4 linked regions of the Homo sapiens genome follow. The protein of the gene in region 3 purifies or fractionates together with the protein of the main gene of each other region. This does not show direct contact. Each region holds a gene or a part of one and is shown on either strand. Other genes may lie near its edges.

What was found.
Region 1: the proteins of PRXL2A (region 3) and EVPL purify together in Homo sapiens (affinity purification with mass spectrometry; one large-scale study listed by BioGRID and IntAct). This does not show direct contact.
Region 2: the proteins of PRXL2A (region 3) and SPRR3 purify together in Homo sapiens (affinity purification with mass spectrometry; one large-scale study listed by BioGRID and IntAct). This does not show direct contact.
Region 4: the proteins of PRXL2A (region 3) and SERPINB1 purify together in Homo sapiens (affinity purification with mass spectrometry; one large-scale study listed by BioGRID and IntAct). This does not show direct contact.

The regions. Positions count from the first base shown.
Region 1 is NC_000017.11:76,005,121-76,010,876, reverse strand, and holds the end of EVPL (envoplakin), read left to right. Parts: intron 1-333; coding exon 334-3,774; 3' UTR 3,775-4,032; downstream 4,033-5,756. Other genes in the region: CDK3 (cyclin-dependent kinase 3), read right to left, coding at 5,454-5,579. UniProt on the Homo sapiens protein: Component of the cornified envelope of keratinocytes. May link the cornified envelope to desmosomes and intermediate filaments.
Region 2 is NC_000001.11:152,999,230-153,004,980, reverse strand, and holds SPRR3 (small proline-rich protein 3), read right to left. Parts: upstream 3,233-5,751; 5' UTR 3,188-3,232; intron 2,379-3,187; exon of another isoform or gene 2,295-2,378; intron 1,980-2,294; 5' UTR 1,961-1,979; coding exon 1,451-1,960; 3' UTR 1,125-1,450; downstream 1-1,124. UniProt on the Homo sapiens protein: Cross-linked envelope protein of keratinocytes.
Region 3 is NC_000010.11:80,417,718-80,423,011, reverse strand, and holds part of PRXL2A (peroxiredoxin-like 2A isoform 1 precursor), read right to left. Parts: intron 3,013-5,294; exon of another isoform or gene 2,547-3,012; 5' UTR 2,545-2,546; coding exon 2,367-2,544; intron 596-2,366; coding exon 504-595; intron 1-503. UniProt on the Homo sapiens protein: Involved in redox regulation of the cell. Acts as an antioxidant. Inhibits TNFSF11-induced NFKB1 and JUN activation and osteoclast differentiation. May affect bone resorption and help to maintain bone mass.
Region 4 is NC_000006.12:2,834,710-2,840,003, forward strand, and holds part of SERPINB1 (leukocyte elastase inhibitor), read right to left. Parts: intron 4,758-5,294; exon of another isoform or gene 4,626-4,757; intron 3,978-4,625; coding exon 3,840-3,977; intron 3,291-3,839; coding exon 3,173-3,290; intron 1,542-3,172; coding exon 1,399-1,541; intron 1,315-1,398; coding exon 1,147-1,314; intron 1-1,146.

The sequences.
Region 1 (5,756 bases), on a different chromosome or scaffold from region 3:
GTTGATCAGGCTGGTCTCGAACTCCTGACCTCAGGTGATCCGCCCACCTTGGCCTCCCAAAGTGTTGGGATTAAAGGCATCAGCCATTGCACCTGGCCCTTACTTGCACTTTCTAATGCAAACCAGGCCTGCGCACTGCCTTGGGTCCTAAAATCATTGCATTGACTGGGTCTTCTCAAAATCCTATATCCAAGCATCTTAGGTCTTCAGCTCCACCTCTGAGGACCCACTGGGGAGTCTCAGGAAACAGGGAGGGGTCTTTCATCTCAGGAAAAACATGGAGCTCCTATCTCTACCGCCCACCCCGTGCTCTACCCTTCTTCCTCTCTGCAGAAGGAGCTCAGTGAGGACATCCGAAGGACCCATGATGCAAAGCAGGGCTCCGAGAGCCCTGCCCAAGCAGGGAGAGAGTCAGAGGCCCTGAAGGCCCAGCTGGAAGAGGAGAGGAAGCGGGTGGCCCGGGTGCAGCATGAGCTGGAGGCGCAGAGGAGCCAACTGCTGCAGCTGAGGACCCAGCGGCCCTTGGAGAGGCTGGAGGAGAAGGAAGTGGTAGAGTTCTACCGGGACCCCCAGCTGGAGGGCAGCCTGTCCAGGGTGAAGGCCCAGGTGGAGGAGGAGGGCAAGCGGCGGGCTGGCCTGCAGGCAGACCTGGAAGTGGCAGCCCAGAAGGTCGTGCAGCTGGAAAGCAAGAGGAAGACCATGCAGCCTCATCTGCTGACCAAGGAGGTCACCCAGGTGGAGAGGGACCCCGGCCTGGACAGCCAGGCGGCCCAGCTCAGGATCCAGATCCAGCAGCTCCGCGGGGAGGATGCCGTCATCTCGGCCCGGCTGGAAGGGCTGAAGAAGGAGCTACTGGCCCTTGAGAAGAGGGAGGTGGACGTGAAGGAGAAGGTCGTGGTGAAAGAGGTAGTCAAGGTGGAGAAGAATCTGGAAATGGTCAAGGCAGCCCAGGCTCTGAGGCTGCAGATGGAGGAGGATGCTGCGCGGAGGAAGCAGGCGGAGGAGGCTGTGGCCAAGCTACAGGCTCGCATCGAAGACCTGGAGCGGGCTATCAGCTCGGTGGAGCCCAAGGTCATCGTGAAGGAGGTGAAGAAGGTGGAGCAGGACCCAGGGCTCCTCCAGGAGTCCTCCAGGCTGAGGAGCCTCCTCGAGGAGGAGAGGACCAAGAACGCGACGCTGGCCAGGGAGCTGAGCGACCTGCACAGCAAGTACAGCGTGGTGGAGAAGCAGAGGCCCAAAGTGCAGCTCCAGGAGCGCGTCCACGAGATCTTCCAGGTGGATCCGGAGACAGAGCAGGAGATCACTCGGCTCAAGGCCAAGCTGCAGGAGATGGCGGGCAAGAGGAGCGGTGTGGAGAAGGAGGTGGAGAAGCTGCTGCCCGACCTGGAGGTCCTGCGGGCCCAGAAGCCCACGGTGGAGTACAAGGAGGTGACCCAGGAGGTGGTGAGGCATGAGAGGAGCCCCGAGGTGCTGCGTGAGATCGACCGCCTGAAGGCTCAGCTCAACGAGCTCGTCAACAGCCACGGGCGCTCCCAGGAGCAGCTCATCCGCCTGCAGGGTGAGCGCGACGAGTGGAGGCGCGAGCGGGCCAAGGTGGAGACCAAGACGGTGAGCAAGGAGGTGGTGCGCCACGAGAAGGACCCGGTGCTGGAGAAAGAAGCAGAGCGGCTCCGCCAGGAGGTGCGGGAGGCGGCCCAGAAGAGGCGGGCCGCGGAGGACGCGGTGTACGAGCTGCAGAGCAAGCGCCTGCTGCTGGAGAGGAGGAAGCCCGAGGAGAAGGTGGTGGTGCAGGAGGTGGTGGTCACCCAGAAGGACCCGAAGCTGCGCGAGGAGCACAGCCGGCTGAGCGGGAGCCTGGATGAGGAGGTGGGCCGGCGGCGCCAGCTAGAGCTTGAGGTGCAGCAGCTGCGGGCCGGCGTGGAGGAGCAGGAGGGCCTGCTCAGCTTCCAGGAGGACCGCAGCAAGAAGCTGGCCGTGGAGAGGGAGCTGCGGCAGCTGACCTTGAGGATCCAGGAGCTCGAGAAGCGGCCTCCCACGGTGCAGGAGAAGATCATCATGGAGGAAGTGGTCAAGCTGGAGAAGGACCCGGACCTGGAGAAGTCCACGGAAGCCCTGCGGTGGGACCTGGACCAGGAGAAGACCCAGGTAACCGAGCTGAATCGGGAGTGCAAGAACCTGCAGGTCCAGATTGACGTCCTCCAGAAAGCCAAATCGCAGGAGAAGACCATCTACAAGGAAGTGATCCGGGTGCAGAAGGACCGCGTCCTGGAAGATGAGCGGGCCCGCGTGTGGGAGATGCTCAACAGGGAGCGCACGGCCCGGCAGGCCCGGGAGGAGGAGGCACGGCGCCTGCGGGAGCGCATTGACCGGGCCGAGACGCTGGGGAGAACCTGGTCCCGGGAGGAGTCCGAGCTGCAGAGGGCCCGGGACCAGGCCGACCAGGAGTGTGGGCGGCTGCAGCAGGAGCTGCGGGCTCTGGAGAGGCAGAAGCAGCAGCAGACACTGCAGCTGCAGGAGGAGTCGAAGCTGCTCAGCCAGAAGACGGAGAGCGAGCGACAGAAGGCGGCCCAGCGGGGCCAGGAGCTCTCGCGGCTGGAGGCGGCCATCCTCCGCGAGAAGGACCAGATCTACGAGAAGGAGCGGACGCTCCGGGACCTCCACGCCAAGGTGAGCCGGGAGGAGCTCAGCCAGGAGACCCAGACGCGAGAGACCAACCTTTCCACCAAGATCTCCATCCTGGAACCCGAGACGGGGAAGGACATGTCCCCATACGAGGCCTACAAGAGGGGCATCATCGACAGGGGCCAGTACTTGCAGCTGCAGGAGCTCGAGTGTGACTGGGAGGAGGTCACCACCTCGGGGCCCTGTGGGGAGGAGTCTGTGCTCCTGGACCGCAAGAGCGGGAAGCAGTACTCCATCGAGGCCGCCCTCCGCTGCCGGCGCATCTCTAAGGAGGAGTACCATCTGTACAAGGACGGCCACCTGCCCATCTCCGAGTTTGCGCTGCTTGTAGCTGGGGAGACCAAGCCAAGCTCCTCACTCTCCATCGGCTCTATCATCTCCAAGTCCCCGCTCGCCTCCCCGGCCCCCCAGAGCACCAGTTTCTTCTCTCCCAGCTTCTCTCTCGGGCTCGGTGATGACAGCTTCCCTATCGCCGGGATCTATGACACAACCACAGACAACAAGTGCAGCATCAAGACGGCCGTGGCCAAGAACATGCTGGACCCCATCACTGGGCAGAAGCTACTGGAGGCCCAGGCGGCCACAGGGGGCATCGTGGACCTGCTCAGCCGTGAGCGCTACTCTGTGCACAAGGCGATGGAGAGGGGCCTGATCGAGAACACCTCCACACAGAGGCTGCTTAACGCCCAGAAGGCCTTCACCGGCATCGAGGACCCCGTCACCAAGAAGAGGCTCTCGGTGGGCGAGGCCGTCCAGAAGGGCTGGATGCCCCGGGAGAGCGTGCTCCCACACCTGCAGGTGCAGCACCTGACCGGGGGGCTCATCGACCCCAAGAGGACAGGCCGCATCCCCATCCAGCAGGCCCTCCTCTCCGGGATGATCAGTGAAGAGCTGGCCCAGCTCCTGCAGGACGAGTCCAGCTACGAGAAGGATTTGACAGACCCCATCTCCAAGGAACGGCTGAGCTACAAGGAGGCCATGGGCCGCTGCCGCAAAGACCCCCTGAGCGGCCTGCTGCTCCTGCCAGCGGCACTGGAGGGGTACCGCTGCTACCGCTCCGCCTCCCCCACCGTCCCGCGCTCCCTTCGCTGACACGGGCCAAGGAGCCAGTGGGGAAGTGCGTGTGTTGGGCCAGGTAGGATACGTACACCTCTTGCCTCAGAGCAGCCTCATCCCAGGCAGTGGGTCTTCCCTCTGTCCAACCACTGTTTTATTATTTTACTAACATGGTGATGGGCTCCCTCCCCTAACCTTGGTGCCTGATCCATCCCCAGACCAGGACAGCAGCCACTCAGTTCTTCCTCCACCTCCACCCAGTGATCCCAATAAACGAATTCTGTCTCCCCGTGCCATGTGGTGTCCCATTCATTCACATTTGAGAGTGCAGGACCCATGTGTCTGGGGGATGAGTGCAAGGACAGCGTTGCTCAAGTCCTTGCCTGGGCGGACGTGCTCAATTTGCCTGCCTGGGAAACAGGCATCCTCGGAGGGCTGTGCCTCCTTGAGTGCGGGGCAGGGATGCAGTGGCAGGTCATGGAAAGAGATTATGGTTTAAAATCACTAAAGGAGGCCGGGCACAGTGGCTCACACCTGTAATACCAGCATTTAGGGGGGCCAAGGCGGGTGGATCCGAGGTCAGGAGTTCGAGACCAGCCTGACGAACACGGTGAAACCCCGACTCTACTAAAAATACAAAAATTAGCTGGGTGTGGTGGTGCACACCTAAAATTCCCGCTACTCAGGAGGCTGAGGCAGGAGAATCACTTGAACCTGGGAGGCGGACGTTCCAGTGAGCAGAGATCATGCCACTGCACTCTACCCTGGGCAACAGGGTAGACCTGAGACAGCGAGACTCCATCTCAAAAAAAAAAAAAAAAATGGGGGCTTGGTGGCATATGCCTGTAATCCCAGCTACTCGGGAGACTGAGGCAGGAGAACTGCTTGAACCCATGAGGCAGAGGTTGCAGTGAGCTGAGATTATGTCACTGCACTCTAGCCTGGGTGACAGAGTGAGACTCTGTCTCAAAAAAAAAAAAAAAAAAAAAAAAAAATCATGGACTAGCCCCTGTCTCCCCACCTACTCCTTGCCCATTTCCCCACTGTCTCAGTTTGGGCCAGAGCTGTCTCCAGCCCTGTGTCAATGTTCCCCTTGTCAGGAAGCCCAGGTGTCCCCTGTGAGCAGAACAATCAGAAAACTCAGGAACATACCACGTTTATTTATTGTTGTCAAGCCAGAAATGAACCAAAAGAAGCACATCTCAGGTGAAGGAACAACTCCTTATTGCAGTCATAGCCCAGCTCTCCTGGGATCCGGGGAACGCCCTCTCTCCTCTCCCTCACTCCCTCCTGTTTAACTTGGGACTGAACTGGAACTCAACTCTTCCCCCAAACATTTTAAATCCAAAAAGACCAGCAGGGGGCGCCCTTTCCTCAGGGTCTGGCCCTGCAGGCAGGGCAGGTGAGGGCCTGAATACCCACACCCAGCTCTGGCAGGCCCCCTGCCTTCAACTTGGCACTTGTTCCAGTGCCCGGGGACCCCTCGTGCATGGAGCATCTGTGCCTCTATTTTGAAACGGCACCGTCCAACCCAAAAAACAACACAGGATCTCGCTAACCTGCGGGCAGGACTAACCCAGACTCAGCCCTCTGCAGGCTGATGCTGAATTCCTTAGTGCTTTGCTCTCCCCAGATGCATCCTCTCTTGGCAATGGGTAGGAGGCAGCTGGGGCAGCAGCTGCTCGAGAAAGGATCTGAGTGTGGCCTTGACATTCTCAATGGCGGAATCGCTGCAGCACATACTGGCGGGCAGCTGGGGAGGGCTCAGGGGATGAGAAGTACGGGTGGGCCAGGGCAGTCTTGGCTGTGATCCGCTGGCTGGGGTCATACTGCAGGAGTTGCTAGGAAGAAAGAAGGAAGAAGATGTGGTCTGGGTGCAGCCAGGGTGGGGTGAGAAATTCCCCTCCCAGGTCCCAGATCAAGGGCCTGGGCCCCAAATTGGCTGCCCTCAAACCCAGAACCGCATGAAGCCATGACCTCCCAGCTCTCCAGCCAGTTCCGGACACTCCTGGAATCTG
Region 2 (5,751 bases), on a different chromosome or scaffold from region 3:
GGAATCCTATGCAGCCATAAAAAATGATGAGTTCATGTCCTTTGTAGGGACATGGATGAAATTGGAAATCATCATTCTCAGTAAACTATCGCAAGAACAAAAAACCAAACACCGCATATTCTCACTCATAGGTGGGAATTGAACAATGAGAACACATGGACACAGGAAGGGGAACATCACACTCTGGGGACTGTTGTGGGGTGGGGGGAGGGGGGAGGGACAGCATTGGGAGATATACCTAATGCTAGATGATGAGTTAGTGGGTGCAGCGCACCAGCATGGCACATGTATACATATGTAACTAACCTGCACATTGTGCACATGTACCCTAAAACTTAAAGTATAATAATAATAATAATAATAATAAAATAAAAATCACTTAATAGATTTCTGAGGGTTATTTTGGAACACCACTGGGAGTGTGTGTGTGTGTGTTTGTGTGTATGGTTGTGTACTCATTTGTATTAGAAGGGCATGAATATCCTAACTCGTAAACAAGACTGCAAATTCTACAAGGGAGGTGCTGCGTATCCTCCTCTCTCTCTCTTGCTGGTCCATCTTTAGGGATCTCTGCACATAAGAGTTACTTAGAAAAAATAACATTGAGCTAGAGAGGGTAGAGCTTGTGTGAATGATTATGTGACTGTGTGGCTATTTAAAATGAATGTTTCTCTTTGTGAATGACTCTGTGTGTGTGTGTGCGTGTGTGTGTGTGTGTATGTGTGTGGTGGGGTATCTAGAAGGTAAAACAAATGAAGAAAAATAGACTGTCCAGTCAAAATATGTAGGAGTAAAGTTTTCTTGGAACAAACAGGAGATTTGTTGTCAGGATACTGAGGATCAGAGGTGTCTTGGAACAGGTGGCTTGGAGTCAGGCATGACTCAGTCCAGTGCAAGAGGAGAGCCTGTGGCTGCCCAAAGTGACAACTTCTATTCAACATCACACCAGGCCCATTGCCATTCCAGGAACACCTCAACTGTAACCCCATACACCCATAGAAACAAACAGTACTGGGGTTAAATAGATGACTTCTACATCAACTCCTCTCTGTCTATAGGTCCTGACTCACAATGGGGAAACAAGGAAGGAGGAAGATTCTGCCAATGACACACACAGCCAAGACTGGAATTAAAAGCAATTTAATGAGGGAAGAGCAGGAAACATGCATTTCTTTTCATTCGAATCTTCAGATGAACCCTGAGCAGCCGAAGACCAGAAAAGCCATGAAGACTTTCTGCTTAATTCAGGGGCTTACAGGATTCTTCAGAGTGTGTGTGAACAAAAGCTTTATAGTACGTATTTTTAGGATACAAATAAGAGAGAGACTATGGCTTGGGGTGACAATGTGCTGATTACAAGGTCTACAGACAATTAAGACACAGAAACAGATGGGAAGAGGGTGTCCAGCATCTGGTGGTTGGCTTCTCAAGGGCTTGTCTGTGCACCAAATTACTTCTGCTTGGTCTTCTGCTGAGCTGGGCCTGGAGTGACCGTTGAAGGACATGGCTCTGGTAGCTTTGTGTAGCCTGGCACAGGAACTTTGGTGTATCCTTGCTCAGGAACTTTGATGGCACCTGGCTCAGGAAACTTGATGAAGCCTTGGTCAGGGACCTTGATGCTGCCTGGTTCAGGGACCTTGGTGTAGCCTGGCTCAGGGACCTTGGTACAACCTGGCTCAGGGACCTTGGTACAGCCTGGCTCAGGGACCTTGGTACAACCTGGCTCAGGGACCTTGGTACAGCCTGGCTCAGGGACCTTGGTACAGCCTGGCTCAGGGACCTTGGTACAGCCTGGCTCTGGAATCTTTGTGTTTCCAGGTTGTGGAACCTTTGAGTGGCATGGCTCCTTGGTTGTGGGAACAAATATTTCCTGAGGTGGAGGCTGGCTGGGTTGTTTCACCTGCTGCTGTTGAAGCTGAGGTGGTGGGGTAAAGGTCTGCTTCTGCTGGTAAGAACTCATGCTTCAAAGGATGCTGGACCTAGAGACAAAACAGCTAATTCAGTGCTTTGATTAAGTAGGAATGAAGCCCAGTTTAATGACAAATATCTGTCATTTCATTCTCCTTCAGAACTGAGAGCCTCTCTTTTCTTTCTTTTTCCCTGAATTTGAGATCATGGGATGCTTTGGTGATCCCCACTTATCTTCCAGAGAATAAGGTAAAGTTGATTTCTTCCACATCGTGTAAATGGAGCCTTTCTTTATGCTTCTTTTCTTCCTGGTACATCTAAAAACCTACGTACAACATGAAAACACATACAAATATGCAAATATATACTCTGAAGCTTTCGCTTACACACTCTTTGAAGAATCCTCTAAGCTCCTGAATTAAGCAGAAAGTCTTAGTGGCTTTTCTGGTCTTCAGCTGCTCAGGGATCATCTGAGGAATTGAGTGAAAAGAAATGCATGTTTCTTGCTCTTCCCTGATTAAATCACTTTTAATACCACTCTTGGCTGTGTGTCATTGGCTGAAGATTGATGTGACACCTCAGTTTTTCCATAAGTTGGAAAGATTTTAAGGTCAGCAGTCTAGAATCTACTCACTCATGTCCTCCTTATAGAGTGCGATAGTTCTCCCAGGAGAACTCTTATCTAAACTTCCCCCTAAGGCTCCCACAATCCACCTGGGAGCCTCTGTTCACACTGTGCCTGCTGCACATGCTCTCTGGCAGGCTCTCCACATCATCGCTGCCTCCCCACACATGCCCACCTCTCATGGCTGTCCTTCCTGATGCTCTCACCTTCCTCGTTTTGCCACAGCATGATACTTGCTTTCCCTCTCTGCTAATCACTCCCCATGCTGTATGTTTGCAAATTTTAGTCAAGTATATGTTTTCTAATGGATTATACATTCATGCAATAAAGAAAAACTTATCTTTTGATCATCAAAATTGCCAATGTAGTGCCTTCTATATTAAAAATTTTCAATACATGTTGACAGGAGAGTGCTCTTGAAGTGGGTATATTGTCTTGCTAACTTAGCAAGCCTTTACAGAAATCACTCCCCTTTTCTGATCCTAAGTTCCACACCTGTAATCTGAGTGGAAAGTCAAAATATGTATAAGGTCACCTTAAACAAAAGTCGTTATTGCATTTAAAATAAATATATTCATTGCATAGCAAAGAGATCTCAATCAAAATAAAGAAACTATTGGAGAATATTAAGGTGTTCCTAATGCGGAGACTCACCTGCTGTGCAGAGAAGGTCGAGGTGTTCAGCCTCTGGGATCTGGTGAAGAGTCTCTTGTTAGCTGGTATTTATATAGAAAATGAGCCCTGCCTTAAGAAAATTGGATTTTTTAAAAGACTGCTCTAACTTCATTCCAGCTTTTGTGATAAGTATCTCTGGCTTAACATTTTTTGTCACTTAAGCTCTGACAGTGATGTCACCTGGGCCTGACTCACTGTCCACCCTTTGTGGTGTGGTTGCTGTGGGCAAAGGTCTTCTTGAATGGCAATGGATTAAATTAGGAGGAAGTACCATGCTCCTAGGACTAGAACGAGCCAGGCCTCTTGGCCTGGGCCCTAATCTTTAGCCAGATTAGTCCTATTGGGCTTCCTCATGGTTGAAGTGGACATGGAAATAACAATAGGCATTTCTGGTTCTGCGAGGCCATGGGGATGGTGCAGAATAAGTGAATCATCTGATTTTCAGTCTCTTACTGGATTTGGACCTGGGAGGAGCAATGGAAGGCAAAATGCCTGCTTTGGAAATAAGTTGCTTTCACTGTGAAGGGCGCCTTAAGGTGCCGTGTTGATCAGGGATAGTAGATGTCATTGAGATGGACAGGCAGGATTGACTGGATCTGTGTGACATTGTGGCTCAGCCCTGAAGACCCTGCCTCTTGTGGTATCTTTCTTCTCCAGGAGTGACATAGGAAGAGGAGCGTGCTGATTCCCTAGGTTCATACACCAGCCATTTCCTCTGATCACTACAGGATGAACCTCAAGTCACTAACTCAGAGTTGCCCTCAATACACACTCTCTTACTAGACGCGGCCCTTGGAAAATCCAGACATCCTTACATCTCAGGCATGTGAATAGCTCCTCCTTTCCCAATGTTCCACGACTGTGTTACTCCCTTGAACCTGATGCCCAGCTCCTTCCACCAGGTTCTGAAAGCCCCTTGTTCTACTTCAGCGTCACACAGTGCCTGGTTATCATGGGTGTTAAGTCAATGGACAGTCATTGTTCTCCTGAATAGAGCTGTAGGTTCATGGAAGGGAGAAAGGAAGTGAGAAAGAAACAGAGATAGATAAAGAAGAAAGGAAAGAAAGAAAGAAAGAGAGAGAGAGAGAAGGAAAGAAAGAAAGAAAGGAAGGAAGAAAGGAAGGGGAGGGGAAGGAAAGGAAAAGAAAAGAAAAGAGAAAAGAAAAGAGGAAAGATAGGGAGGGAGGGAGGAAGGCAGGAAGCCACAAGGCAGTTTCTTGGGCATGATTCACTGTCCTGTGCCAGGCCTCCTGGTGTGAGCTGAGAAGAGGTGTGAGCTGATAATTCATGAAGGAGAAGAGGCTTACCCTCCCTTCCACACCCATGTCCTTCCCTCTCTGCTAGCATTTGTTTGACCGGCCACTTCCCTCTGGGATGGGCCAGGGCCACTGCCATGCCTAAACTCTGGGCTCTGTCATCACATTAGCTCTTTTTCAGTGTTGGGTCCAGGTTTCTCTCCTCAGCAAATCCACCTCTCAGGAGCCACAGACCCTGGGGGCTTCGGCTAGACCCTGCTGCTCCACCTGGGATTTTCCTCCCCAGAGGAAGGAAGCTCCTCTATGAATCCTGGTCTCCCTCATTTTCTTCCTCGATTCTGCACCTTGGTTCTAGAGGAAATTCCTTTCTGATTTCCTGTGTCCCTTCCCTGGGCGGGCTCTCTCCTGCCCTTCTCTAACTCTTGCCTCATTCACCCCAACAAAAGCTTCTCTGCCATCAGCTTATTGAAATTCTCGTTTTACCCCAACCCTGTTATTCCTGTTTAGTCAAACACACTCAGCGCCTGAACGTTAAGCCTCTTTCAGAGAAGCTTTGTTTTCTCATGAGCAGTGTTGGGTGTGCTGGTAAGTCTGGCCTCAGTTTTAGAGAGGATACATTGAGTGGCTTCTGAAGGCGAGTCCCACTTCCCCAGGTACCTTAGTCTTTCCCACTGGCTCCCTTCTCTGGTGGCAGGAGGCTGTGAGTCATCCAACTGCACTGTCCTGGGACTTTCTTGGGACTTGTGTGTGGATGGTACTGGGTGCCTCTTAGGCACTCTCCAAATCTTCTGGATCTTGCTCTTGTTTTCTACCATGGCTATGTGGACCACTCACACACATTGCCTAGAGTTCTGCCTCTTCTTTCCTCACCTGAGGGCCTCTGATGCCCCAGCGTGAGCTGTCTGTAGGAATCTGTAATGCACTTGTGGATATGCAAGCTTGAAGTTCAGTGTTAGCATCTAGTGGCCACACTCCACCAATGGAGGACATGAACTGGTAGATAATGCTTTCCTCTTTCATTTCTAGGGGAAACCCTTCTGTGACATAGTTCTCTGTCAGCTGAGATCCTGGGGATCAAGTTCCAGTCACCCTTCCTGGTTGCCTACTTAGTAACATATTCTTTGTATATATTGATTTTTCCTTTTGCCTAGCTTCACCCCTGTTTATTTCACATTCCTCTTTTCTATGATTACATTCTCAAAGAAACTAGCTTCACATAAGATATTGTCTTAGGCTCAGTTTTGGGGGAACACAAGCTAGGGTATATAATGAAATACATGCTCCATT
Region 3 (5,294 bases):
ATGTGGCTCTCAGCTGTCCACGATGGACTCTAAGAGCTCCCCAAGGAAAGAGAGACAGGCAGGTCTGCTCTAATAGGTAACCTTGAAGTGTTTCCTCCGACACTGCAGCTTCATCACAGGGAGGGACTGACCACACCCGAATCAGAAGCAATCCAGGCACATCATATATCTGTGCTGAGCATCAGAAGCATGGAATTGGACCTGGTCACTGCCCCTGATTAAATTGGAATATGGTCCAGGACTCAGAAGGTACAGCACAGGGTGAAAGGCCTGGGAGTACTAAGGGAAACTGAGATGTGTTGCTAACCCCAGTAGGAGAGGGTGAGTTGTTTAAAAAAAAAAAAAAAAGAGCACAAATCAAAGAAATACCTAGAGCAAATAACAGAACAGAACATGTGGGTAAAAGGCTAAAGCTGGCTTACCGACCCTTGGTTCTGGCCGGAAAACAATGGCCCCTACTTGCCAGGATCCCTTTCTCTGAATAGATCCTCATCTGCACTCACCTCTCGACAGAGGAAACAGCCTGGCCTCCGCACGGCCATAATCACAGCTCCATTTTTTTCCCATAGCTCCTTTGCTTTGAAAGTCCTTGGTTCTAAGAGAGGAAAAAAAGAAATTCGATATCTCCTCCCAGCCCAGCCCCAATCACTAAGCAGCTCATGAACCACACTAAGTCCAGCCAAGGTCAGAGACCCGGCCTAGTAGAGGACCTGGACAGGCATTTCACACGTGGGAAAAGACACACAGGAAACACAGACAGACAGAATACACACCTTCCTGAAGAAAGTTAACCAAGCTTAAGAATCCTGTTATATACCCGGTAGGTCCCTCCCACCATGAAAATCTTTTTTCTAACCTGAACATTCAGAAGTGGGACATTTCTGGAAAAATGGCCATTTTGTCTATTGCTGATGTCATCAGATATTGTATAATAATCCTTCAGAACAGAAACATGGCCCAAACTGAAAAAGTCTCAAATTTTTAACCTAAATATGTTACCTGCAATATTATTAACGAAGGAGAGGATAGAAGATGCCTAGGAATAAAATGCTTTGGGGTAGTACAGTACTGTAGTTCAACAAGCCCAGCTCTAAGGTCCAACTGAATCTGAATCTAGCTGTGTAACTCTGGGCAAGTTATTTTTGCTCTTTGAACCTCAGCTTCCTCATTTGTAAAATGCAAATATCTAGTAGCTCCACTTTGGGCCACAGGGCATATTGAAAGATGAATATAAAAGTGCTCACCACAATGTCTGGTAATATAGAGTTGGTGAGGGCTCAATAAATATGAGCCCTTAATTATTTTAGTATTTCCCAGAGGGATCCATGTTCCCGTAGATGTTATGTGGAAAAAAAAAAAATGGGGTCAGGTGGGTGAGAGGGTGGGGAGAAGAGTCTGTAATCAAATAAGATTGGGAAACCCTGGGTTGAACAAAGCTTAACAGGTCTCTCTCTCTCCTAGTATCTTACTAAGGTGACCTACTATAAACCTGCACAATCTCCTGCCTTCCTTTCGCAAGCTTCCTTACTTACTAAACAGATGACGATGACTTCCACCTGGGGGGCTAACATGGTGACCACGCCATCAATGAGACCTTCACCACTCCAACTCTCTTGCCACACCACTGGCATGACTGAAATCCCACCAAGCTACAGCTCTAACACTGAGAGCACACAGCAAGGAGGCAGAGCTAACACATTTGGGTGTGTGGCTCTAAGCTGTCCACAATGGATTCTAGCAGTCCCCCAGAAGAGGGAGATAGGCAGGTCTGCTCTAACGGGTGACCTTGAAGTGATTCCTCAGACACCACAGCTTCTTCACAGGGAGGGGCTGGCCATGCCTGAATCAGCAGCAATCCAGACACCTCATTCTAATAAGCATATGTCTGTGCTGAGCATCAGGAGCATGGAATTGGATAAAAGGTGTCTCCCATACTTGTTCACTCAGGAACTCCTTTTAGTTTGACGATCCCACAAGCCTGGAATTCCTCAGAATACACTCTGGAAGCACTGGTTTAGTAAAAGATTGTAATTATTACTAAATATTATGGAGCAATTTATCATTATAATTACAGAGACAACAACAGAGAATGAGAAATGCTTTTGATAAGAAAAGCTAAAATGTAAAACAGCACCTAAGCCAAGCACAACTACGTAATATGTACACATGGAAAGGAATATGCCAAAATCAAAATTACTGTGTTAGGGTAACAGAATTATTCCTAGTTTAAAAATTGTTATTAAATTTTTCCTAATGTTGTTATATTATCTTTTCAATTAAAAAAAGGAGAGAGTTTAGAAAGAAAGCAGTAAGCCTGTATCCCAGCTCCTTGGAAAAGTACTGAGACCTGAAGGGTCACCACTTACCCTTCTCCAGTGTTTTCAGGTCTATATCCTCCAGGTACTCCAGGGCCGCTTTCTGGGGCTTGGACAGAAACACGTCTGTGTTGGCAAGCAGCAATGCCAAGGCAGCAGCCCCCAGGGCTCCTGCACCAATGGACCACATCCCCATGGTGAAGAAACTTGGGTCCTGGAGGAAAGACATTTCTGGAGATTGAGAAGAAGGAAGAAGGCGTTACTGCTCCCACAGGGTAGCTGGAATTTCATCTTCCAGGCAAGGCTCTGGCAGGACAGCCAACCAGGAGGTCAGGACAGGGGAAGGGAGCAGCAGTGTCACAGGCGAGACTGGACAAGGGCTGCTAAGCACCTGCTGCCACCAGAACTTGGGGATGCAGCACACACATGGAGGTTCCTGCACCGTGGAGCTCACCAGGGCATCAGGAGTGATGACAGAGAAAGGACAGCCTTCTCAAATGGTTCTCTTGCTGCTCTCTCTTCTCATGCCCCAAGTTGCAGCCCCTAGCTCTGTGGAGCTGTGCCGAGCTATGTCCCCTGTAGGCAGACTACTTCCTCATTCCCCTCCTCATCAATGCCTGATTCTCCCTCACAATCCAGGTGGCTCAGGATCATGTCCCTGGGTAGGGGCAGCTTTCTCTTCTGTGATCAGAGGATACTTAGAACACCAACCGCACTGTTTTGTTCCCCTATCTTCTTTCCTCTTTAGTTTGACGACCCTCCAAAAACAGGGACCATATCCTACTCATCAAGCCCCCAGCCAGTGCCCAGCAGGGCCTCATTCATTATAGGCAGGCAGTAATTTCTCCCAATTGAGAAGAGCTTTATTTCTCCCTTATATAAAAACAAAATATGCTTATAGTAAAAAACAAAACAGAGAATACATGAAACCATAGTCGATAAGAAAGCAAATACTCTCTGAAGCTACCACCTACTGATGGCCACTGTTAAACACTGGTGTTTAGTAATCTGACTTTTTTCTCCTGTGAACAGAACTACACAGATGTCTGCCAAACAAATGCAGGTGTTATATCAGAAAGAGGAGGTCCTGGCAGGGCGCGGTGGCTCATGCCTGTAATCCCAGCACTTTGGGAGGCCGAGGTGGGCGGATCACCTGAGGTCGGGAGTTCGAGACCAGCCTGACTAACATGAAGAAACCTCATCTCTACTAAAAATACAAAATTAGCCGGGCGTGGTGGTGCGTGCCTGTAATCCCAGCTTCTCGGGGGTGCTGAGGCAGGAGAATCGCTTGAACCTGGGAGGCGGAGGTTGCGGTGAGCCGAGATCGTGCCATTGCACTTCAGCCTGGGCAACAAGAGTGAAACTCCGTCTCAAAAAAAAAAAAGAAAAAAAAAAAAAGAAAGAGGAAGTCCTGGCAGGGCACGGTGGGTCATGCCTGTAATCCCAGCACTTTGGGAGGCCGAGGCAGGTGAATCACGAGGTCAAGAGATGGAGACCATCCTGGCCAACACAGTGAAACCCTGTCTCTACTAAAAATACAAAAATTAGCTGGGCATGGTGGCGCATGCCTATAATCCCAGCTATTTGGGAGGCTGAGGGAGGAGAATCGCCTGAACCCGGGAGGCGGAGGTTGCAGTGAGCTGAGATTGTGCCACTGCATTCCAGTCTGGTCATAGAGCAAGACTCAGTCTCAAAAAAAAAGAAAGAAAAGAAAAGAAAGAGGAGGTCCTATGGCATCTGCAGAGGAGGCTGGGCAAAAGACAGCTGCATAAGATAAAGGTCTCTGCAACTGAAATGGAGCTCCAGGCGGGTTCTGTCAGAATTCAGCCTTGTTCCTGGCTTCTTCTGCCAGCTAGGAAGACTTGTGCCTGTGGGTGGGAGCTCCTGGAAGCAGCCCACAAAGTACCCCCACCTCCAGCCTTCCTTCTCCCAACAACCACTTACAATATCTATCTTTCCATTTGGTCCTCACGCCATCCTAAGCTCTGGCATACACTGGTGCCTTCTTCCCTAAGTACCAGCCTGCTTCTGTGTGCTTAGATCACCGGGAATAGGCCTGGGAGTGGGTGTGGTAATTGTGTGGCCCACCTCACCCCAGCCCATCGAACCTCTGACTCAAGTCTCCCTTGCAGGACTTGGCCGGGAGAGGATGTCTCTAAAGGATCAGGAAAGGCCCTGGAAATCCAAATGTCACTGCCAAGGGTGGGGGCTGTGAGGGGTGCACTGCATGAGGTGGGGGTGGGAGTGAGTTGGTGGTGACTTTGGGAAGGAAAGGGTAGGCCAGACTAGCATTGAAGCCACATGGAAATTCAGATTTAAGAAACAAAAGAGGCAGCCATAAAAAAAGAACGAAATCATGTCCTTTGCAGCAACATGGAGCTGGAGACCATCATCCTAAGTGAACTAACCCAGAAACAGAAAATCAAATACCACGTGTTCTCATTTGCAAGTGGGAGCTAATCAATAGTATACATGGACATGAAGACAGAAATAACAGACACTGGGGACAGCTGAAGAGGGGAGGGTGGGGTGAAAATTACCTATCAGGTATAAGGGTCACTATTGGATAACGGGTACACTAAAAGCCCAGTCTCCATCACTACACAATATACCCATGTAACAAATATGCATATGTACCCCATGAATCTAAAATAATTAAAAAAAAAAAAAAGGAATAAGAGAGAACCTTGGTTGAGTGCGGTGGCTCCTGCCTGTAATCCTAGCATTTTGGGAGGCTGAGGCAAGAGGGTTGCTTGAGCCCAGGAGTTTGAAACAAGCCTGGACAACATGGGAGGACCCTGTCTATAAAAAATTAGCTGGGCATGGTGGCACACGCCTGTGGTCTCAGCTATTTGGGAGGCTGAGGTGGTAGGATCACTATAGCCCAGAACTCCAGCCTAGGTGACAGAGCAAGACCTTGTCTTTAAAAAAAAAAAAACAAAAAAAAAAAGATGAAGAAGAAGAAAAGAAGTTCCAGGT
Region 4 (5,294 bases), on a different chromosome or scaffold from region 3:
TGAAGCTGAAGTAATATCTAATAACTTTAGCTCCTAGGTAAAAATTTTAAAGGCAGATTATGCACTGGAGCTAGTTCCTCATCTGAAATGTGATGTGGACATTACTTATATCTACCTTATAGATTGTTGAGAGCATTAAATGAAATGATGTATATAAAGTGCTTGGCCCATAGTGCTACATAAATGTCAGCTATTATCATTACTATTGTTATAGCTATTGGACTGGAATAGAACCATCACTCTACTTCTTCTAATGGTGCTGATAATTCCTTTTAAGAGGCTAGAGATTTTCACTTTACAATCAGAAAAAAAACTAATGCAAAAATACAACCAAAAGAAAGGCCACATTGATTGTTATACAATGTATTAAAAGTCTGTACATGCAAATGATTAACATTAGACCCCCTTCCTGATAGCAAGGATGATGAATAGGTGGATAGGGAGGAGACGGAGAGCACAGAGCAGGCTAGAGTCCCTACATATAATGGAAACCTCATGCAAAGATCATACTAGTAAATAGGCCTAACATGTCACATGAGGCTTTTTCTGTCTTGTACCCATTGAAAATTTAATTCACTATCTATATGAATTGTGATGAGAACAAACAGTGTAATAATAGAATTTTATAGTACGTGATGAAGATATATGCTACACTATTTGGGGCTTTTCAATCTTTTTCCTCAGTAAAACAATCCTCATCTTACTGTAATTTCCTCTAAAGCTAATTCAAGAGCCTTTCCATGAGCTGCCACTAACCAGTATTATATTTAGTATAGATCTTTAATGACCCCATCACAAGTGTCCACTGAAAGTAGCTGGCCATCTTTCTTGAAAAATGAAACGTTAGCCGGGCACAGTGGCTCACAGCTATAGTCCCAGCTACTCAGAAGGCTGAGGCAGGAGGATTGCTGGAAGCCAGGAGGTCAAGACCAGCCTAAACAACATAGTGAGACCTTGTCTCTATAAGTAAATTTAAAAAAAAATTAACTCTGGGCTTTAGTGTAGTAAGTGTTGATGGGCTACATTTACAAAGGAATGACAAACTACTGGAAAATGCACCATCAGTGAACACTTAACAAGCACCTACCTACCATGCGACACACACATGCAAGAGGAACCACAAAGCATGAAGCCCAGGAGCCATACCTTCTTCAGGCCCGTGGACTCGTCCTCAATGTCATCCGGCAGCAGGATGACCATGCTGAGCTCCTCGCCTTGGTAAGGCAGTTCCAGCACACGGCACTTAAGGTCCTCGATGTAGCCATATGCAAATTTTTTCTTCTGATACATCATTTTCACAGTTTTTCTGTCTTTCTGAACAGTTTTAAAAAATCACTGAAATTATTCTCTGCATTCTTTTAGAGCAATGCATGACTCTGTACAGTTACCTCACCTCACCTTATTCAATCTGAATGGTGCATTCGTCGTGGCTTCTTTCATGAATTTATCCTTCCAGTTTCCCTTGAAATAGATGGCATTTACTAGCACAAGTTTGGTCATGTTATCAACCATGCCCGAAGCCAACAGTTCCGGAATTTTTCCTAAAAAAAAATCAAGTTAGCGTAAAAAAAATCCAAATCGGAATTCCAAATTTGAACTGACAATATATTAGCACGGAAATGCAATTCAAATATATAATTTCTACTTAATTTTCATTTAACAAGATATTAACTTAGGAAAGCCCTACTCACTAACATGTCTCTACTTTAAGTATAACAACCTGTGGGGCAGACAGACCAGGATGACACACAAACTTCCCACAAGGACCTGACATTTTAAACAAGTCAAATGTGCCGAAAGACAAAAGACAGGAAAATTCTCCTTTTCTGGACTGTATGATAAACAATGAGCCTTATTTTGTAACAACCATTCTTTTTTAGAAAAAAAAAATTCTTAATGAAGATATCTTTAGTCATCAGTAAATCACTTCTTCAAATCGCTGAGTAGATGCCTACTCTCACAAAAAAAGGTTTAAACAATATCCAAAAGGCAGAACAAGACCAAGCATGGTGGCGCACACCTGCAGTCCCAGTGCTTTGGGAGGTGGAGATGAGAAGATTCCTTGAGCCCAGGAGGTCAAGGCTGCAGTGAGCCACGATCGCACCACTGCACTCAAGCCTGGGCGACAGAGCAAGACTCTGTCTCTTAAAAACAAAAAACAAACAAACAAACAAAAAAACCAGCAGAACATACTCCATGGAAATAAAGGTCACCTTCGTGACCATAAGTATGGCTGGGAACAATTCCCATAATGGAAGACAGGTCTTCTGGAGTGGGTTGACTAATACAGGGCTATGTAAGAAGAGAGATGTAGCAAAGAAATAAATTGCACCCTAAAAGCAAGTCAGTCCCCACCTACCACAACTTTTTTACTGGACAAGATGTTGGCAAAAAATTTACAACCACAGTAGTTTGTGAATATTGATTTCAGGTATTTCCATGAAATTCCAGGACATTTCTTTCCATATGAGTATTAGGTAATTTTTGGCAGGCTGAATTCTCCTCAAAATTTTAATTCCTTTTTTGCTGTATTCAGTGTTGGTTTTAACTTTATTTTTTATTTTTTATTATTTTTATTATTTTTTTTACGACGGAGTCTCGCTCTGTTGCCTAGGCTGGAGTACAGTGGCATGATCTCGGCTCACTGTAACCTTTACCTCCTGTGTTCGAGAGATTCTCCTGCCTCAGCCTCCAGAGTAGCTGGGATTACAGGTGTGTGCTACCACACCTGGCTAAATTTTTTGTATTTTTAGTAGAGACAGGGTTTCATCATGTTGGCCAAGCTGGTCTTGAACTCCTGACCTCAAATGATCCGCCCGCCTTGGGCTCCCAAAGTGCTGGGATTACAGGCATGAGCCACCGCGCCTGCCAATGTTGGTTTTAACTTTGAAATGCAACTTTAAAAGTTTTGGGGAGCTGATGAGAAAAAAGGATTTAGCTGCTTGAGTTAAATCATGTTTAAGTTTCCACTCTGGTGAACTTCGAACATGTGAGAGCTGTCCAGCAACGTGCAGTGCAGACTTCACGCACCGGCAGCGTCCTCTGACTGTAACCACGATGTGCGCCAGGACTGTGGGAGCTGGGGAGGGAATAACTGCAGGTAGGGAAGGCGGACTGAGGAAACGAATGACATGACCAGCGCATAATGATTCCATTCTGCCCAGGCTCTCACCTTCTGTCTGTCCTTTGACCCACTGGTTTATGGTCTTCCTTGCATCTTCAGAGGCATGCTGAAAATCCACACTGGCCAGGTCAGCACCATATGTTTTCTGAGTCGAAACCAAGAACTCCTATTAAAAAAAAGGAAAAGGAAATATATATATAACTCCTACTACATATAGAAATTGTTTTCTAAAATCCCAAAAAGCAACAGAAATTGTCCTAAAAGGCTACAATTCCATGTAACACAAAATTTCTAACTCTTATAGTTTTTCTTATAGTAGTAAAAATCATTTAACATTAAATTTACGATCTTAGCCACTTTTAACTGTGCATTCCAGTAGTGGTAAGCCTAACCCTTATACTGTTGTTGTTATATAGAAATTACCACTCTTTTCTGAACTTTGACTAAGATTTCACAAACACTGATTGTACTCTTGCTTCAGTAAAACCTCCAAGAGCTATCTTTTCACTAAAAAGACTGTAACACAAAATCACCATGTCAATTAAAGTTTGCATTCTGTCGTGTTTGCCTTCCATATTGTTTTTGCCATGTTTGCCTTCTGTATTGTTTTTCTGAAAGTTTACAAATATTAAAACTGACCTCCATGACTTGATTGTGCTGGAAAATATCTGCACTGTCTAGTGGGGTTTTAGAATGTGAAGGGCAAAGTACTTACAGGAAGGAAATTGTAAGTTTTCTCTCCATATAATCTATTAGCAAGTTTCAGAATATAAGACGCTCCACGTTTGTTGATATCAGCATTCAGACTCTGGAATCTTGAATGAACCTCTTCAACCGTGTTGAAATGGAAAGTCTAAAATAAAGAAAATCTTCTTTCTACAACCATTTATTTTGAAACTATAAAGTGATTCCTTGGTGTTTCCTTCTATCACATTAAATTAATGTGTTTTTATTACTAATTATTGATGATCCCAAACCCAATACTTTATTAATTTGTCATTGCAGAACAAACAATAGGAAATCCAAAATTTATGGCTTCGTGAGACAGAATGTTTACAACTTTACACATTGCTTTTACATCACTCTTTGTTACACTTGCAGTTCCACAAATGTGGGTGGTTAAGATACTAAATATTTATATATAAGTCTGCCTTTTCCAAAGAAAATAATAAATGGTATGTTCATATTTATATTCTGTATCAAATATAATTTTACTGAAAGTTCTCAGAAATAAGCAGTAAAAATAGGATTCATCCTCTATTCAGAACCACAAAGATAGTACAGACTGAAGCTTTTAAAATTTTATTACCCTATTAACATCAGTAACTCACTTATTTTAAAATAACTTCCTTAAACTTAACATTCTGGCAAAAGTTTAATTCCCCATGTATCAGTTACAAATCAAGAGGCCCTTTGTGGTTTTATGAGACCTAGGCTGGTTCCTTTATGATTAAGACACAAAGAACAAAATTGCATAGGGTACGAAGTCCACATTACTCACCGAGATATGGAATGTTTGCACTGTGCCTATGCTCCATCTGCTTTAATGGAAATGGGGGAGGAGTCCTTAAAACTATTCTTTGCTGAGGTTTTAAAGTCCCTGGAAAACCTCAAGCTAGGAACTGATATAACCCTGCAAGAAGCAACTAACAATTAGTAACAGAGGTTTTTTTTTTTTAATGGATTTAAAAAAAACATTTAAAATGCTTTCATATCTAAAGTGATGAGTAATAGAAGTTTCGCAGCCCCTTGAACTTGAATCCCAGGCTGCACCTTGCCAAGGAACAGGTGCAGTGTAATTTGCGGCAGGTATGTTAGAAGAGCCTCCACTTTTACCACTCCTTTCTGCTGAGCTTAGAGAGAGAGAGCTAGAGTTCTCTTCTCAGAATTAAAGAGTACCAAGCACAGAAGTCCTCTCCATGTCCATTATGGACAAGAAGGAAGGCTGGGCATGAGAGTGACCTGTCACATCGCCAAGGGCTGGGTCCCGCCCCTGAAGCTGCGGGTCTCCCCCTCACCTCCCCTGCAGGGCGTGCTATGCCACAGCCCACTGAGCCATGCGCAGCACCCTGGGACTACAGAACCACAGGGTCACTTTTTCTCTTTTCCTTGCAAAAAAGCAATGCCACTATCTCCACTATAATGCATTCCCTATGTCTTATTCCTCTCA